Linked DNA regions of Homo sapiens. The protein of the gene in region 1 interacts with the protein of each later gene in a pairwise test. Each region holds a gene or a part of one and is shown on either strand. Other genes may lie near its edges.

Region 1 (2,729 bases):
TCAGGTGAGTCATTTAATTTCAGCCTTATGCCATTTTACATTTTCTGTGGAGGGTTAGGTTAATTGGCATATAAAGCCACTGAGAAGAGTTGGCAAAGCTCTCAGTCACGGGGATTTGATCTTTTTTGGTGTGTGTGTGTCTTGGGTGGTAAAGTGGTAATTTTGTAATTCTAGCTGGTCTTAGTTCCTCAGTTCTGCTCCCTTTAGTCATGGTTCTTTCTAGTGGCTGTATTGAGGCCCCATGGGTGTTATCCCTCCATTGGTTCTAGTTTGGAACAGAAAAATCTGTTGTATTCATGGCTTTCACCTGGCTAATACTGAGCTAAGTTACCACCAGGTTGCAAACTCCAGGACATTATTGTCCTGAGCTGCCTATTCCCTTGCTGGTGCGTTGTGGAACCCTGTATTATTAGTTCCAGTCCTGGAGGCCTGCCTCCTGAGTTTCCCAGCTAGTTGGGACAGGCCCCAATATCCCTTCTTCCTGTAACCCAAACAGTCATGAATTTGCTTTGGCAGGTGGATGGAGACTTGGGAACTTCCACCTCACCCACTAAGCCAGGCCCAGGCTATGGGGCATTGTGGCTAACCCCACCAGGTGGATACTTGGTCTGAGGACGCATCTTATTCTGGGCCTTTAGGGAGCTAAGGCAGTGAGAATTGGCAGGAGGACTGCTGTGAATGCCTTGTAGGTCGGGGGATTGGAGGGGGTCCTCTGCTCCCTGTCTCTCAGGATGGCAATGTACCTCTCACCCCCAGTGTCAGCTGAGGTAGGATCCATAATCAGTAATATTCCTGCAACAAAATGTTCCTAAGTGGAATCAATGAAGACCAAAATTTATTTGTATAACAACTCTAAACCTGCTCTGCTCTGCTGTGTTTACAATGTGCTTTGTGATCATCCAGCCCAGGGAGTCCCAGTCTCTGGCTGTCTATCTGCTCTAAGGAAGAGAGCCCACAGTTCTCTATAGTGCCATAGTCTGTGATGAATAAAGTTCCAGATTTGAGGTCAACCCCCGACCACCCTTAAAGTGCTTGTTGGTCTCCTACTTTGGTTTGTCTTCAGCATCCAACTGATGCACATTTGTCAAGAACCCACTGAGGCTAGAAACCCCCCAAACACTCAAGGTACCTTGAGAACATGTATCCCAAGACCTGCAAAGACCAAACACATGGCCTGTAACTACTTTTCACTTTCAAGCCCTGGAACTTGTCTGTACCAAAAATCTTTCTGAACCATTCACCAAATCTCTTGTCAAGGGCCAGAATAAATTAAGAGATTGGCTTTTGGTTTTCAATTAGGCTTTCAAGTCCTAAGCCCAACCCCTCCTATCCCACCTAGGCAGAAATCACTTCAGATCCTTGCTTCCTAGTTTAATTTCTTCTCTGCCTCAGTTATAACATCCATAAAATGGAAATAATAATACCCACCTCACACAGGGGTTAGGAGTGTTTTTTTGTTGGTTTTTTTCCAGACAGGGTCTCACTCTGTCTCCCAGGCTGGAGTGCAGTGGCACAATCTCGGCTCACTGTACCCTCCGCCTCCCAGGTTCAAGCAGTTCTCATGCCTCAGCCTCCCAAGTAGCTGGGATTACAGGTGCCTGCCACCACGCCCGGCTAATTTTTGTATTAATAGAGACAGGGTTTCACCGTGTTGGGCAGGCTGGTCCTGAACTCCTGACCTCAAGTGATCCACCCGCCTCGGCCTCCCAAAGTGCTGGGATTACAGGCGTGAGCCACCACACCTGGCCTAGGAGTTAAGAGTATTAAATGTTAAGAACAGACCAAGTCCATCAAACAGCTCCACACCCTTGTTCCATGTTCTGGATTGGGGAGTTGTGGGGGTGGAGGTGTAGAACTTTTAAAAAGCTTCTTAAAATAAGTTGCTGTGAATACTTCAGGTATATAAAAAAACATTGGTTGACAATAAGCCAGTGTTCTGCCATTCTTACCTGCTTATCAAGACAAAACCTGCTCAAGTCCCTGCCCAGCTGCATTCCAAGTGTTTTCAAGTTTGGTGGTAAGACCTGACCTGAGGCTTCTTATAACCTTTACTCAGTGGGAATATGCATACAGTTCACTACAGAAATATTTGTATTTACTTAGAGGAAGTGCCCTGGATCTGGGGGCGGGGGGGGGCGGGGGGAATGGGTCTTTTCTAAATTGTTAAAAGCAGTTCATGCCATTATTCTTAATAAACATTTCTAATATGCTGTGAAAGAGTATATTCGTTTTTTTAATGCATATATCCATTTACTCATTGTTCCCATGAAAGAGCCTTGTATGCAAACCTCCAAATGCCGAAGGAGCCAAGAAACAAGGCAGACAAAAATTGTTAGTAAAGGGTTCTTTACTGGGGGGACTTAGAAGCATGACGTGGGGACGGGCGCAGTGGCTCACACCTGTCATCCCAACACTTTGGGAAGCCGAGGTGGGTGGATCACCTGATGTCAGGAGTTTGAGACCAGCCTGGCCAACATGATGAAACCCCGTCTCTACTAAATACAAAAATTAATCGAGTGTAGTGGCGCACACCAAGTAATCCCAGCTTCTTGGGAGGCTGAGGCACAAGAATGGCTTGAACCCGGGAGGTGGAGATTGCAGTGAGCCCAGATCGTGCCACTGCACTCCAGCCTGAGCGACAGAGCACAACTGTCTCAAAAATAAGCATGGCCTTGGGTGGCAGCAAGATAACCATGCTGTTGCTCTTCAACCCACGGCTTACATACCAT
Region 2 (3,753 bases), on another chromosome or scaffold:
CCTGCTCCTTGGCCAAATCAGATCACCCTGCTCTTCTCTCAAAAACAGCCAGCCAAAGAAAGAGAGAAGATAGAGAAAAAAAAAATAACAAAAACAAAAAACCAACCATCCAGGCCGGGTGCGGTGGCTCAGCCGGTAATCCCAGCACTTTGAGAGGCCCAGGCAGGCGGATCACCTGAGGTCAGGAGTTTGAGACCAGCCTGGCCAACATGGTGAAATCCTGTCTCTACTCAAAATACAAAAATTAGCCGGGTGTGGTGGTGCACGCCTGTGATCCCAGCTACTTGGGAGGCTGAGGCACAAGAATCGCTTGAACCCTGGAGGCCGAGGTTGCAGTGACCCAAGATCACACCACTGCACTCCAGCTTGGGCGACAGCAAGAACCTGTCTCAAAAACAAACAAGCAAGCAAACAAATCAGCCACCTCCTACCCTGACTGCTGGGAGTCCAGCCTCCCTGGGCCAGCCACCAGCAGGAGGTAGGGAGGCTGGGAGACAGATGAGTAGAGCGGACAGTGACAGGACACCTGCTCCCGCCAGGCCCTGGGCTAAGCTCCCCTCTTAAGTGATTCCACCTAGTCTTCCCAGCCATTCTCTGGGGTAGGTGCTACCATGATCATCGCCCCATTTTATAGATGAGGTGATTTGAGGCTCAGAGAGAGGTGTCATAGAGTGATATGCAGAAAAGGGATTTGAACCCAGGTTGACTCCAGAGTCCATTCTTTTTTTTTTTTTTTTTTGAGACGGAGTCTCGCTCTGTCGCCCAGGCCGGACTGCGGACTGCAGTGGCGCAATCTCGGCTCACTGCAAGCTCCGCTTCCCGGGTTCACGCCATTCTCCTGCCTCAGCCTCCCGAGTAGCTGGGACTACAGGCGCCCGCCACTGCGCCCGGCTAATTTTTTGTATTTTTAGTAGAGACGGGGTTTCACCTTGTTAGCCAGGATGGTCTCGATCTCCTGACCTCATGATCCACCCGCCTCGGCCTCCCAAAGTGCTGGGATTACAGGCGTGAGCCACCGCGCCCGGCCTCTTTTGTTTTATAGAGATGGGAGCCTCGCTATATTGCCCAGGCTGGTCTCAAACTCCTGGCCTCAAATGATCCTCCCGCCTTGGCCTTCTAAAGTGCTGGGATTACCGGTGTGAGCCACTGCTCCTGGCCAGAGTCCATGGCCTTTTTTTTTTTTTGAGATAGAGGCTCACTCCATCACCCAGGCTGGAGTGCAATGGCGTAATCTCAGTTTCCTGCAATTTCTACCTCCCAGTGCAAGCAATTCTCCTGCCTCAGCCTCCCGAGGAGCTGGAATTATAGGCATATGCCACCATGCCTGGCTAATTTTTGTATTTTTAGTAGAGACAAGGTTTCACCACATTGGCCAGGCTGGTCTCAAACTCCTGGCCTCAAGGGATCCGTGTACCTCGGCCTCCCAGAGTGCTGGGATTACAGGTGTGAGCCACCACACCAGGCCAGAGTCCATGCTCCTAACCATTCCTTGGGCAAGGGCTGTGGGCCTGGGGTGTGAGTGACAAATCTTCCTTATAAGGAACGTGGGAATTGCAGAAACGTGGCTTTTCCAGTCTACTGAGTAAAAAGGAACAGAAAGTAGCCCAGCCTTCATGCCCACAAGGCTCACAGGAGTCACAGCAGTGCCCCTGCAAGAGTTTGTTTTTGGTTGTTTTGAGGAAGGGTCTCACTGTGTTGCCCAGGTTGGAGTGTAGTGGTGCGATCATGGCTCACTGCAACCTCCGCCTCCCAGGTTCAAGGGATCCTCATGCCTCAACCTCATGTGTAGCTGGGACCAAGGCGCCGGCCACCATGCCTGGCTAATTTTTGGATTATTTTGTAGAGATGGGGTCTCACTTTGTTGCCCAGGCTGGTCTTGCCCTCCTGGGATCAAGCAATCCTCCCACCTCAGCCTCCCAAAGTGCTGGGATTACAGGCATGCCTCTGTGCCTGGCTTCCACTGTTTAAAAGTTAAAATCATATTTATTTGCAAACTTTGGATCTCAGTTTCCCTACTTGTTTTCTTTTCTTTTTTTTTTTTTTTAAGACGGAGTCTCGCTCTGTCACCCAGGCTGGAGTGCAGTGGCACAATCTCGACTCACTGCAACCTCCACCTCCCAGGTTCAAGTGATTCTCCAGCCTCAGCCTCCTGAGTACCTGGGACTACAGGCGTGTGCCACCACGTCCAGCTAATTTTTGTATTTTTTAGTAGAGACGGGGTTTCGCCATGTTGGCCAGACTGGTCTTGAACTCCTAACCTCAGGTGATCCGCCCGCCTTGGCCTCCCAAAGTGCTGGGATTACAGGCATGAGCCACCGCAGCTGGCCCTCAGTTTCCCTACTTGTAAATGAGTGTGTGAGCTGGTACTACACAGAGTGCTGGGATTTCAGGCGTGAGCCACCATGCCAGGCCTGTGTATGGTTCTTTTTTTTGTTTTTTTTTGAGACTGAGTTTTGCTCTTGTTGCCCAGGCTGAAGTGCAATGGCGCGATCATGGCTCACTGCAACCTCTGCCTCCCGGGTTCAAGCGATTCTCCTGCCTCAGCCTTCCTGAGTAGCTGGGATTACAGGCATGCGCCACCACGCGTGGCTAATTTTGTATTTTTAGTAGAGACGGGGTTTCTCCATGTTGGTCAGGCTGGTCTCGAACTCCCGACCTCAGGTAAGCCACCTGCCTCAGCCTCCCAAAGAACTAGTATTACAGGCGTGAGCCACCGTGCCTGGCCAGGCCTGTGTAAGATTCTAATCGAGGATGCTCTACGCGTGTTCCTGCCTCAGAGCTTTTGCACGTGCTGTTTCCTCTAGTCTAGCAGGAGTGCCCTTCTCCCAGATGTCTGTCAGGCCTACTCTATTCCCATCTCTACTTGAATTTCACCTTCTCAGAGAAGCCCTCCCTGATTACCCTGTCTGTATAGCCCCCTTCCATGACTCACCATCCTCTGAATATGACTTATTTATCCTCTTAGTTCTCACCACCTCCTGGTATACAGTCTGTTTTGGGACTTCTTTGTGGTCTGTTTCCTCCAACTACATAGAATGTCAGCTCCAGGTCGGGTGTGGTGGCTCACGCCTGTAATCCCAGCACTTTGGGTGGCCAAGGCGGGCAGATCACCTGAGGTCGGGAGTTCGAGACCAGCCTGACCAACATGGAGAAACCCCATCTCTACTAAAAATACAAAATTAGCCAGGCATGGTGGCGCATGCCTGTAATCTCGGCTACTCGGGAGGATGAGGCAGGAGAATTGCTTGAACCTGGGAGGCGGAGGTTGCGGTGAGCCGAGATTGCGCCATTTCACTCTAGCCTGGGCAATAAGAGCAAAACTCAGTCTCAAACAAACAAACAAACAAGCAAACAAAAAAAGAATGTCGGTTCCATAAGGGAAGGGGATTTTGTCTTTTTCTCTACATTATTCCCTGCACCTACCACAGCGTCTGCCTTGGATGAGGTTCTCAATATATATTTGCTAAACGAGTGAATGAAGTGGTAACAAGTTTCTGAAAAAATAAGTTGGCCATCTCTGCTCTGGTCCTATGGGGCCATCTCACAGATGGAAACACTGAGGTTTGATTCAAGGTTTGAGAACAAGGGTCCCATGTGATTGTGTCACCTTCCTGCTTAGGAGATTTTCATGCCTCCTGAATGCCCTCAAGAGCAAGTCCAGGCCGGGCGTGGTGGCTCAGGCCTGTAATCCCAGCACTTTGGGAGGCCGAGGTGGGTGGATCACCTGAGGTCGGGAGTTCCAGACCAGCCTGG

What was found.
Region 2: the proteins of RBM3 (region 1) and MYPOP interact in binary tests that used the Homo sapiens proteins (3 or more experiments, as listed by UniProt).

The regions. Positions count from the first base shown.
Region 1 is NC_000023.11:48,578,946-48,581,674, forward strand, and holds the end of RBM3 (RNA-binding protein 3), read left to right. Parts: 3' UTR 1-2,217; downstream 2,218-2,729. UniProt on the Homo sapiens protein: Cold-inducible mRNA binding protein that enhances global protein synthesis at both physiological and mild hypothermic temperatures. Reduces the relative abundance of microRNAs, when overexpressed.
Region 2 is NC_000019.10:45,895,898-45,899,650, forward strand, and holds part of MYPOP (myb-related transcription factor, partner of profilin), read right to left. Parts: intron 1-3,753. UniProt on the Homo sapiens protein: Transcriptional repressor; DNA-binding protein that specifically recognizes the core sequence 5'-YAAC[GT]G-3'. Dimerization with PFN1 reduces its DNA-binding capacity.